Linked DNA regions of Homo sapiens: all the other regions are reported to be linked to region 3. Evidence: microRNA targets listed by miRTarBase, many of them from high-throughput screens and not tested one by one. Region 3 holds a microRNA gene; each other region holds the end of a gene's coding sequence.
The links. The annotated mature microRNA hsa-miR-630 reads AGUAUUCUGUACCAGGGAAGGU and lies in region 3 at 2,874-2,895, shown strand. An mRNA with a match to its seed (bases 2 to 7 or 8) in the 3' UTR can be bound and repressed. Matches are read on the target gene's strand: a 7mer-m8 pairs with bases 2 to 8, a 7mer-A1 pairs with bases 2 to 7 and ends in A, and an 8mer does both.

Region 1: the mRNA of TNFAIP8 is a reported target of hsa-miR-630. The part of its 3' UTR that is shown has no 7-base or 8-base seed match.
Region 2: the mRNA of PARP3 is a reported target of hsa-miR-630. Seed matches in the 3' UTR shown: 8mer at 822-829.

Annotation. Positions count from the first base shown.
Region 1 is chr5:119,392,806-119,397,052 of GRCh38, reverse strand. It overlaps TNFAIP8 (TNF alpha induced protein 8), which reads right to left. Exons shown (of 2, transcript NM_014350.4): 2 at 1-4,237. The coding sequence ends at 3,672. Among named protein-coding and RNA genes, the nearest start is that of TNFAIP8, 39 kb to the right of the region's middle. RefSeq lists an enhancer at 1,967-2,016.
Region 2 is chr3:51,947,755-51,952,001 of GRCh38, forward strand. It overlaps PARP3 (poly(ADP-ribose) polymerase family member 3), which reads left to right. Exons shown (of 11, transcript NM_001003931.4): 10 at 1-141; 11 at 557-1,113. The coding sequence ends at 726. Among named protein-coding and RNA genes, the nearest start is that of GPR62, 5.5 kb to the right of the region's middle.
Region 3 is chr15:72,584,404-72,588,650 of GRCh38, forward strand. It overlaps MIR630 (microRNA 630), which reads left to right and starts at 2,814; the gene lies at 2,814-2,910. It overlaps ARIH1 (ariadne RBR E3 ubiquitin protein ligase 1), which reads left to right. Exons shown (of 14, transcript NM_005744.5): 14 at 1-4,247.

The DNA.
Region 1 (4,247 bases), not on the chromosome of region 3:
AATATTTCTGTACGATCAAAGTTCTTAACTCATGCTTTTTTTTTTTTTTTTTTTTTTTGAGACGGGGTTTCGTTCTTGTTGCCCAGGCTGCAGTGCAGTGGTACAATCTCAGCTCACTGCAACCTCTGCCTCCCAGGTTCCAGCGATTCTCCTGCCTTAGCCTCCCAAGTAGCTGGGATTACAGGTGCCTGCCACCACATCTGGCTAATCTTGTGTATTTTTAGTAGCAGTGGGGTTTCACCACGTTGGCCAGGCTGGTCTCGAACTCCTCACCTCAAGTGATCCTCCCACCTCCGCCTCCCAAAGTTCTGGGCTTACAAGCATAAGCCACCGCACCCACCCCATGCTTTACTCTTAAACTAATTTTGAGTTGTATATGAAAGGCCTAATAATCAGAAAAAGGCTATTTCTTAACTTAACTTGCTCAAATATTTTGAGCCTCCAAATCTGGAAAATAATGTTGAAGTTTGAAACTGATGCCGTGCCTACTCTAGGGAGCACAGTACTGAACTGCTGCTTCCTTGCTTCTCTTGGTGAATGCACATTGAGTGCCTTGTCATGCTCTGAACCCACCACTGCTAGGGACAGCTGTGGGGGAGCAGCTCACTGCACCTCAGAAGTCAACGTTAAAAGTCATTGTGAGCACCTAGAAGTGAAGTTCCACGAGACAGAAAACTGAGCCACAAGATGCCCCCAAAGTAGGAGTCATGTTGAAAACTTTGAAAAATGTCTTTGTACAACATCTACACAGATCTTTAGAGAACAGGCCAGACCTGTGCTGACTTAGGTACTGCCTAAAATGTCACTATATGAGGAACCATTTCAGCAGCATACTGCCCACGCTTCTCTGAGCCAAAGATGTTCCTAGCACTGCCTTTAGCCATATCATCTTTAAGTGAAAATAAGATTTTATACATATTCCGGCTGGGACACCTCGAGCACATGTGACCTCAGGAAATTCCTTAACTTCTATTCCCCTAGTTTCCTTATCTATAAGATGGTGAAGATTGTGGCAGAATTAAATGAGTTAATGTGCCCGACACATAATACAAACTACTCTGCGTTAGTTGTCCATTAGTATTATCATCCACTTATCATATCCACTCATAATTTTTGCAGAGAAGCCACCAGCACAAAATAAAATCAATTACAACACAATTTTTTTCAAAACGTGAACAGATACTATTTTATAAAAAGGTTCATAGGATCCCCAAATTAGTATTAACTCGGCTCAGATTTATCTACCCTAAGCACGTGGGGATTCTTCCCAGCTCCCACGCTCCTTGCCACCCTAAATGCTCAAGGGGAGTCCTATTGTATTAGAAATGAACTTGCTAATCACGACTTTGGACCTGATCCAAGACATGCTTTTCAGGCACAGCACTGGTAAGGAGATGGGTCCCCTCCAGAAAATGCTGAGAAATGGTAGCAAACAGGATTCCCTCCTTCGGTCTACTCCTCACTGCCTTCCCTCTGTGGGAGATGAAGCATTGCTCCCCCAATCCCATGCACATTTGATTGCTAGCCTGCTGGCACAACCCTATGATCCAGTGTGTCCAGAGAGATCCAGATTTCTCCCTCCGTACGTTTTCTCTCTCTGGTTGGTCCTGTCTATAGCTACAGATGAGCAAGAAGCATCCATGGACTGCCCAGGGCTTTCGTTTCCCATACCTCTGCTGTTTGAGATCTGGAGAACAGAACACATCCAGTCAGTAGCTCACACCCCCCATCACATTCTCAGCCTTCACATGTGAGGAAAACAGCTGGTCAAGGAAGGCTGCTGAATTCCATTTATAAGCCACTTAGCAAGTTATGAAGCTAGAAGGGTCATTTCTGTAGTCACTGTGTTATTGTTACAGCATATACTGATCACCTACTGGCTCTAGGAAGTGAGAATGATACTTTCAGTTCAAATCTTAGTGTCAGGATTTAATATCAAACAGGAAGAAACTCTACACCTTTGCTGCTTGTCTTAGCCAAGCAAATGAGGGTGTCAGAGAAACTGACCACCCTCTCTAGGCTGAAATGGGTTAGAGCAGATCTCAACTTCTGGAATTTTTAGTTGTGGAACCTTTCCTGGTAAACTATTATTTTAATGTCAATATTCTGGGAGGCAGGCAAATTTAAGGCAAGAGAGTACACTAAATCATAGGCACAGTGGCTCACACCTGTAATCCCAACACTTTCGGAGGCCGAGGCAGGCAGATCATTTGAAGTCAGGAGTTCAAGACCAGCCTGGGCAACATGGTGAAACCCCATCTCGACTAAAAATACAAAAATTAGCTGGGTGTGGTGGTGCATGCCTGTAATCCCAGCTACTTGGGAGGCAGAGGCAGGAGAATCACTTGAACCTGGGAGGCAGAGGTTGCAGTGAGCCAAAATCATGCCACTGCATTCTAGCCTAAACAACAGAGCGAGACTCAAAAAAAAAAAAAAAAAAATCATAGACACAGTGACAATGGAAATGTTTATTGCTGGTGGTTGGGTCTGTCATTTCCTAGAGGACATAGCTGGCCAGCAGATTTTCATTTCTTTTTTACAAAATAAACAAATGCCTACTTTATTATTTATACACAGAAAATTATATAGAAACACCACACAAACTGCTTGAAATACAAATATTCTTTGGTTTACTTATCAAAGTAAAAAATAACAAAAATCTTATCAGTTAAATAAAAAAGTGACATTCTTTATCAAGCCTTCTTAAACACTGAAACGCACGCATTTTTATGCTCATGTTCTTTAGCAGTATTTCTCCCCTTTTGCCCCTCATTCCCCTAAATTGTTTCAATGAGTTCATCTGTAGAATGAAGATTGTTACCTTTCTTAATGCTACTTACTTTTTATTATCTCAATATCAAGACCAATCTAGACTTTTTTGTCTCTTACATGTGAAATGGATGTAAAAAATGGAAAATTCACCAGCACTTTTTAAGATAACATAAAAGAAGCCCTAAGCAAGCATTTCAAGGCAATGACACACCATTACATTTCTGAGAAATTTAAGTATCATTGGTACTTAAAAGGAGAACTCAATTCCAGAAGCATATTCTTATACTGGACATTATTCATAATAGCTAATATAGTTCATTTCCACAGTACTGATTTCAGATAAGCCATTTTTTTTTTCCTGAGGGTTGACTACCTCAGACTTAAATCCTGAATGTCGATGACTCAATCTTAACAAAACAGTCAGCTGTAGACATGAAAATTGAATTGTTTCAAAAGGAGCAATGATAGCAAGAGAAAGTTCTTGGCATTTTAAGAAAAGTACATATACATAGCAAGAAATGAAAGTAAATCAAAATACATAGCTTTGTACATGTTAGAAATATCCAATGTGCCACCAACACAACAACTGCCCTATTAAAAAGTCCTCAGGTCTGGAGACATCTGTATTTTTCTTTGTATAACTACATTTGCATTACCCAACCACATATCTCTCCCATGGTCTGTTACCCGTTAGGAAGCTTTTAACCAGAATTTTTGGCAATATGCTTTTCTTCAAATAAAACAAGCCTTCAAATAAATCATTATGTCTGACAACTGAATTGGGTAAAGTCTTTCTGAAATATGTGTAATCTTTAGAAAATTCTTCTTTTTTCCTTCATAAATCAGCAGTGCTCCATCTTCAAATAAATCATGATCAGTCACAATCTTAACTCATGTGCTCATATGTTCTCTTCATCCAACATTTTGTTGATACCATCACATAGTTTTTGTAAGTGGGGTTTAAAATTCCCAAAAGGATTATACAAGGCAGCCAAAAATTCACAATCTGAAAAATGATCAAACACATTATTAACCCGTCCATGTGACTTGGCAGTGAGGTGGCGCTGAATGATTTGGTGCAGCATCTCTCTGCATTCATTTAACAGCCTGGATAACACATTCCGGTCAAAGGTATAATCCACCTGATGGAAACTGACCACGGTCATAGCAAGCTGATGAACTTTCTTCTTAAATTTCTCCATCAATGCTAGCTCATCTTGATTAAACTGATTATTCCTATAAAGAATGGCCAGCTTGATGACTGTCTTGATGAGGTTCTTGATGATCTTCTCTGCCTCCTTCTTGTTTTGGGTGTACTCCCTGGTCACTCTGTAGAGCTCATCCAGCACCTCACTACTTGTGTCGTCTATTAAGGTGGTGGCGATGGATTTGGACACCATTTTACCCAAGATCTTCTTTTGTGCCTGAACGGCCAGGTTTTTGGAATTAAAGACATCTGTGGCCACTAAAAAAAA
Region 2 (4,247 bases), not on the chromosome of region 3:
GTGGGGCCCACCATGTCGGCTACATGTTCCTGGGTGAGGTGGCCCTGGGCAGAGAGCACCATATCAACACGGACAACCCCAGCTTGAAGAGCCCACCTCCTGGCTTCGACAGTGTCATTGCCCGAGGCCACACCGAGCCTGGTGAGTCCTCAGAAGCTGTACAGCCCAAGGAGAGAGGTGGGGCCGAGATAGGGGCTGGGACATTTTCAGGGAGGGGGCTGTGAAGAGGGACAAAAAGAAGCTTCCCTGTCGTCACTCAGTTTGTCATTTGACAAACATCCACTGGTTCAACACATCATTCCTGGGCATCCCGGAGGGCTTCAAAAAGAGGAGTTGTTGACTGAGCATTGAAGGATTAGTACAAGTTTCCCAGAGAGAAGTCGGGGAGGACACCCCAGGCAGAAGCCCCAGCCCCTGCAGTGGTTTGGAGGTGGGCAAGGTGGAAATGAGCAGGCGTGCCCTGTGACAGACATGGAGAGCATAGGGGGCAGGACTTACTCGTAAGGCCTGGGACCAGTGACCCCTGGGCCACCCTGGCCCTTGCTGTGCCCTGCAGATCCGACCCAGGACACTGAGTTGGAGCTGGATGGCCAGCAAGTGGTGGTGCCCCAGGGCCAGCCTGTGCCCTGCCCAGAGTTCAGCAGCTCCACATTCTCCCAGAGCGAGTACCTCATCTACCAGGAGAGCCAGTGTCGCCTGCGCTACCTGCTGGAGGTCCACCTCTGAGTGCCCGCCCTGTCCCCCGGGGTCCTGCAAGGCTGGACTGTGATCTTCAATCATCCTGCCCATCTCTGGTACCCCTATATCACTCCTTTTTTTCAAGAATACAATACGTTGTTGTTAACTATAGTCACCATGCTGTACAAGATCCCTGAACTTATGCCTCCTAACTGAAATTTTGTATTCTTTGACACATCTGCCCAGTCCCTCTCCTCCCAGCCCATGGTAACCAGCATTTGACTCTTTACTTGTATAAGGGCAGCTTTTATAGGTTCCACATGTAAGTGAGATCATGCAGTGTTTGTCTTTCTGTGCCTGGCTTATTTCACTCAGCATAATGTGCACCGGGTTCACCCATGTTTTCATAAATGACAAGATTTCCTCCTTTTTTAAGGCTGAATGGTACTCTGTTATGTATATGCACCACATTTCCTCTATCCGTTCATCTATCAGTGGACACCAAGCTGCTTCCATATCTTGGCTATTGTGAACAGTGCTGCAGTGAACTGGGAAAGCAGACGTCTCTTGAACATACTGATTTCATTTCCCTTTGATGTATACCCAGTAGTGGGGTTTCTGGATCCATATCACCCCTTCTTGCCAGGCTCCCCTGTGTCCCAGACATCGATCCCCCTTCCCTCCAATCCCTGTTAGCCTTGATGTGTCTGTGGCCCCAGAGTCTTGCCTCCTAAAGTGATGGGTGTGGTACGGGCGTATTACAGGGACACAGATGCAGCAGCTTACTCAAGGGGCACAGCTGAGAGTGGCTTGGATCCCACATCCACCCAGGCCGTCCATCCTGGCCTGGACTGCATGTTGGAGCCATGTGGTCACCAAGGTAGGCTAAACTGCAGGCATGTGCAAGCAGCTTTACTAAACATGGTATTCTCTTGCCCCAGCCTCTGCCTGTCTGTGCCACAACTGTGCTGGGCCTGGGCCTCCAGCCACACTCCAGGGAGCGAGCGCTCACATGGGTTGATGTGGATCATGCACATACTCCTTGCCCCTCCTGGTCCATCACTGCAACAACCTGCTTCCTCTAATTGAGCCTTCAAGGGGGACCCCCACTGTCTACTCAGAACTATTTGTCATCTGGGGACCCACCTGGTGATTCTGTCCTTTATCCCAGACATTGCCAGGTGAATCAAGCATTCTTCATGTCTTGGCACCAAACATCCCTTTGTGTCTTTTTTTTTTTTTTTTTTTTTGAGGCAGGGTCTCACCCTGTCACCCAGGCTAGAGGGGAGTGGTACAACCACTGCTCACTGCAGCCTCAGCCTTCCCAGGCTCAGGTGATCCTCCCACCTCAGCCTCCAGAGTAGCTGGGACTACAGGTACATGACACCACACTTGGCTAATTTTTGTGTTTTTTGTAGAGACAGAGTTTTGCCATGTTGCCCAGTTTGGTCTCAAACTCCAGGGCTCAGGTGATCCTCCTTCCTCTGCCTCCCAAAGTGCTGGGATTACAGGTGTGAGCCACTGCACCCAGCCTCCTTTGTGTCTTAATCTAAATGTTACAAACAAGCTGAGCATATGTCAGAGGGGCACAGCTCTGCAATCATGAAAGGAGGCTGTTCAGGCAGGAATGCCAGTGATCACCAGGCAGGTCATCCTATCCACAGACAAAGGGTGCCATTGCTGGAGGAGGCCAACATCCAGGCTAGGGTTGCACATTGCATTTAGTTGTTGTGTCTCTTTAGTCTCCTTTAATCTGAAAACACTCCTCAGCCTTTTTTTTATTTTATAACTTTGACATTCTTGACACTCTTGAAGAATACAGGCCAGTTGTTTTATAGAATGTCTATCAGTTTAGGTTTCTCTGATGCTTTGTCGTGATTAGATTTAGGTATTGCATGGGCAGGAATGTGACATAAATGATATGCCCTAGGGAATTCCATCTGTAGGGGCATGGCCCATTCTTGGTGATGTTAATTAATTTTAATCATCCATTAAGGTGATGTCCGCCATGTTTCTCCACGGTGAAGCTACCATTTCTCCCCTTTGTAATTAATCAATAATCTGTGGGGAAATATTGTTGGGTGTAAATGTCCCTTTCCTCATCACCTTTCACCCACTAGCTTTATCCATCGATGATAACTTAACTGAAATCAACTACCTGAATCAATTTTTGCTAAGATAGTTGCAAATGGTAGTTATCTAACTCCATCATTTCTTTTATCTGTATTAGTTTCTGTCTTTATTATCAGTGTAGACTCATGGATTTTTATTTTATTCAGTGAGTTATAATCCATTACTGTCCTCAATTATTTTGATCCTCAAATTGTCCCAGATTTGGCCAGCAGAAGGTCCCTTCCGTGTCCCGATCATTTTTTGAGCACATCCTTTCTCTCTGGCATCACAAGATGTTCCAGGTTCATCTCGTACGAACCGGGAATCAGCCATTTCTCCAAGGAGCCCTGGTTTCCTGGAGCAGGAAATGTTTAGAATCCAAGATCTGGGCAATAGATGTGCTCCTTGGTACTGAGGTGTCATTGCTTTTAAGTCCTTCCAGCAAAGAGAGCTAAGGAATGTGTCTATGTGGCTGGGCGCAGGAGCTCTCACCTGTAATCCCAGCACTTTGGGAGGTCAAAGCCGGAGGATCTCTTGAGCCCAAGAGTTCAAGGCTGCAGTGAGTTATGATTGCAACACTACATTCCAGCCTGGATGACAGACTGAGACCCTGTCTCTAAAAAAATAAAAAAGGAAAAAAAAGGGGGGAGACAGAATATGTATGTGTGAATAAATAGCAAACACATCTCTCTATATCTATTTCTCCAGTTCCAGTCAAACACCACAGAGTTCTTCCATTCTTCCCCAATTCCCTATTTCCTCGATTCTTAAACAGTAAGAACCTGGGTTTCTATCAACATCAATATATCTACTTATTTGCTCAATCCTGCACAAAAAGGAGTTTCAGAATTGCCATACCCATACCCTGTGAAAAACAAACATTCTAAATAGAGCTCAAGATGTATCTGATCTTACTCAGTATTTTTTTTTTTTGTCGTTAGATTGAGGGTCCATGGTCAAAGTAACAGTTTGAATACACGTTCAGATGTTACTTGGATTGGTTCTTTCTCTTCAGTGTGGTTATTTTATTCGTCTGAAATACAGGTAGGCTCAGTCATTTCTGTCTACATTCTTCTTTGTTACTTTATTGTTTTCAATATGTAGAACATTAACATAGTTCCAAAAGGTCCACTCTATGCAAGCTGTGCTCAGAAGAGTCCTTCTATCCCCCACACTCCATTCCTACTCACCTGCTGGAGGGAGCCAGTTTCATTAGTTTCTGGCATATCCTTCCTGTGTTTTTTTTTTTTATTTTGTTTTGTTTTTTGGAAATTTTGCAATACACATACACACATACACATGCTAAGGAAGTGTTTTAATTTTTTATTTATATTAATGATGTCGAAGGGAGCATGAACTCTGCAACCCACCACAGTCCCCACCCCTCCCTATCGCGTTCCCCAGTCCACTTTTCTCATTTGCTGTTCCCACTTGGCCCCACCGAGCTCTCTCCAGGC
Region 3 (4,247 bases):
GGAAGCATTTTAAAATTTCTTTTACTTTTTGGTTTTCCCTTAATTGCTGCTTTTCAGATTTTAGTTATGGCTCGTCTGCTCACCCCTTCTCTACATTAGGGTGTCAAAGAGAATGTTTTGCTTTAAATATAAATAGCCATTCATTTAGTCTCAGATTGTGAATTTAAAATGGTGGATACCGAAATTGCTTGTGTGTGTTGCTGTGGGTTTGGTTTGAAGGCAAACACCCCTAGAACATGATATTCCCATCTAGTGCATTTAAATAGAAATCACTGAGTTTGCTGCTTTTTTATTGTCAGCAGATAGGAGAATTAATAATGCATTTTAGCTGTGATGTCCATTTTTATGAAATTCCTACTAAGAGCTATGTTAAAAGTAAAGGATGGTGGTGGTTGTATTAACTATATACCTGTTTAGGCCATTCTGGCTGTGGTATTTTTCAATAGGTCAGCATCTGTAAATCTGTCAGTTTTATACAGGAGTGCAGAGTGAACTAGGCAACTAGATTAAGAGGTCTAAATATGAAATACCAGTTGAGGCTGAGGACCTCTTCGTCTTCCTTTAAATGTCTTTTGCCTAGGGAGTGTTTACCATTTGTGAGGCAGCTTTGTCTGCTCTTACACTGTACATCCTATTACTCCATTGGGAAGTAGGTTCACTTTCCTCTGGCCTTTTGCCTAAGTTAGGCTTTGCTGAATCAACCCTACTTTTCCTTTTAGAAAAGGTTGTTACAGGAGATTTACTGGCAACTGTTCTTTTCCCATCAAAAATCAGTGAATGTTTGCTGAGTATAAATGCTGCTTCCTTAAACCACTTGTCGCTTTAGGATCAACTTTACCTGTACCTTTTCTCCTTTCCTCCCTTGCCACCTCAGGTGCAAATCTGAACTCAGTGTCTGCTTCTTCCATTTTCTCGTCTCTCTCCCCTCTTCCCCCATTATCCATATGACATTATTTTACTTCAAATGACAGCATCAATCTTAAAAAGATATACATTAAAACTAAGGAGTTTTTTTAAAGAAAGCCTGAATAAGTTCCTTTCCCTGGTAACTTTGAAAAGCAGTCAGAGTTGCTATATAGATATATGTGGCTCCTTTAAAATGCTTTGTGTATGTGTGGTGTTTAAAAAAAAAAAATCTTACCAGTTAACTTTGCAGTGTCTAGGTTTGAGTGTCATAAATCCACGTGTTCCTGTTGCAACAAATACCCAAAAATTGTGTGTGCACTTCCTAATACCAGTCTTCACCCATGGAGGAACAGTGCTTTTTAGAGATGCTTTCTATTTCAATGTTGGCATACTGCCTGAGGGTATTGCAGTTGTGGGTGCATTCCCTAATTTGTATGATCAAGATGAACTGGCCCTTTTCTACTTCCAAGCTTTTAACAGATACCACCATATTTGACAGAATTCCCAGAGTGAATTGCTTGTGTTATTAGTAGATTCAGTGCCCCCAGCTGGGATAGGCAAGCCATGACAGCTTCCCTGTTTCACCTACAGAAGTCTTATCTGAGGGATCTATTCACAGTAAGCACCAAGGTCTCCATGTCTTGAGGTCAGTTTCATTGTCTTTTGAAAAGTGCATGCTTCATTTGAACAATTCATTCAGCAGCAGATGGACTTTCAGTGATTTAAAATAAAATTTTGATCCAAAGCTCAGGACACAAACCACAGTGGTAAAATTGAGTAGCATATAATATCAGACTAAATTATCTGTAATTTTCCACAACCCAGATTGTATGTGTTTTATGTGTGTTTAAATAAATATGTTAGATACACGTGTATACATACACCCATATACAACAGATCCAAGACTGGCTGACTTCATTTGAAATGGTTGAATCTGCTGTGTAATAAAGTGGTTCAACCATGATTAGGAACTGAAATTTAGTAGAAGAGGGAAAAGGAGTTAATGTAACAAATTATTTTAGCTACAAACCCCGGTAATAGAGCACTTGGGGGATGGGATGGGGTGGGTTGGTGAGACAATCAGAATGGTAAATTGATTAAATGCTCCTAACCCTGTAATTTTGTGCATAGAGCACCCTATGCTGTGGAAATAACTGTTCTTAGATTTCATTGTAACTGGACTGTTCAGGTTGCCCAGAGGGAAAGAACATTCCTAATTCTAATAAAATAAACTTTTATTTTGTTATTCCATTAGTTACTTATGTTTATTTTTATAGTTAAAAAATGACTAAAGGTGGCTAATAGCCACCCGTATTATGTGCCTTATTCACTGTTCCCACTTAATATAAAATGTCAAAAATTGGTTGTTTCTTTGCAGGGAACTGTGAATGAGCCCATTCCCCCAACATTTAACTTGGTTAATGAAGCTTTCAGAGCATTTTCTGAAAGATTTCCAATTTCTGCATCTCAGATATTGAATTTAAATTGTTTGTGTTGTAACAGTGATACAAAAATGTTCAATAGCTCTTTGAATGCCACTTTTTTTAAAGAAAATACTTTAAAAGTCATTCTTAGCTAACCTCAAAACTCCTTTACATTACTTTCATTTTAGCTCACTCTTAAAGCTGATACTGTTATATAGGGATGAAGGGAGAGTTTTCTTAAAGAAGGTCCCAAAGTTGAAGATCGTTTGTCATTGATACTCTGGCCAAGTCCAGGTTTTAGGACAATTTAATTTACTCTTATTTGGATCTGTAATTATGGGAGTTTATCACTTTTCCTCTTCAAAGCACTTCAACTTACTGTCTAAAACAAGTGGAGAAGAAATTGCCATTTTTTATAAAGGAGGAAGATAAGGCTCACTGAGGTTAAATAACTCCCTCAATTTTTCATTTCCTTCTACCTGAAACTTAACATCATGCTACCTCTTTGTATCATATTTTGTTATTCTGGTCACAGAATGACCTAGTATTCTGTACCAGGGAAGGTAGTTCTTAACTATATTGTACTTTTAAACCACATTAAAGACTATTATAAATGCCTATCACTGCTACTGTTAGAGGTTGCTCTATACTATCTCTGATCTTTCATTTGTTGCAGTTTGCAACACAGTAGTTGAGAATAAGTGGTTTAGTATGATTTGCTTAATAGTACCCAAGTAATTTGCAGTTGTTGGTTTAGTTATTCAAATGAATTTCCATTGTAAAGAATTTTGGATAGTCTGCAGGAAATTGTTACAGGATGCACAGAACATCCCATATCCATTGGATCTCAGCCTTTGAGGCTTTAAAAAGATGATAAGCAGTGAGTTTTATGAGAAAATTTTGGCTCCTTCAGAAACAGGAAGATAAGTGGGCCCCTCAGATTTTTCATATATCTTTGGGGATAAAGTTGGTTATATCTGGTTTATTTTAGGGATTTTGCTTCTGTAGTTACCCAAGATCAAATAGCCAACTCAGAAATACTCAGTTGGATATCAATCAAATAGTGCCTACCAGGGGAGTAAACAGACAACTTTTAGGTTTTTAGTTTTTGCTTTTGTGTGGAGTTGAGTCCAATTTTTAAGGCAACTATTGTTGACCTTTCTCTAGGCGGTAGCATTTAGGATGGGAAAAAATAATATGAGTTATGTGCGAAAAGCAGTTTTCAGGCTATCATTTAGGGCCACAGATATGCTTATTTAGGACTATTTTCAGGGTAGGAGCCAGTTAAAGTTTGTATATCAGTCACACATTGATATGTAGCAGCTCTATCAATACCACAACAACCTTATTACCATAGTAATTCAGGGGTCTCAAGTAATCCAGGAGTCTCAAACTGAAATGTCAACAAGAGCCAAGTAAATATTTTAGAAATAGAGTACCCTGGAGTAGATGGGCTCTGAGAGGAGCCTGTGAAATCCAGACTTCATGTGAATTCTCTTAATTAAATGTGGGCCAAAGAAAACCCGGCCATGGGCAGTTTTTTTTTCCCAGCTTCTACTAGTCTTGGCTTGCAACAATGCCACTGTCCATCTGGCATTACCTAGACCAGTGATACTTAAACTTGACTGCGAATTGGAATCACTGAGAAGCTTTAAAAAATATTAGTGCCTGAGTGTTACTTTATGGAGATTATGATTTAATTGCTTTGGGTAGGCATCAGTAATTTTTGTAAAGCCCTTTACGCATTCTCACCCCTAATTCCAGCCGGTGATTCTCACATGCAGACTAGGTTGAGATCCTTGATCTAGACTGCCTTCTATAGTTGCAAAAAGAGAATATAGGCGAGCAACTCCAGATCATAAGGGACAAAATGATTCAAGGCAAATTGACTGGCTCAGAATAGGGCCTCACTGGAGG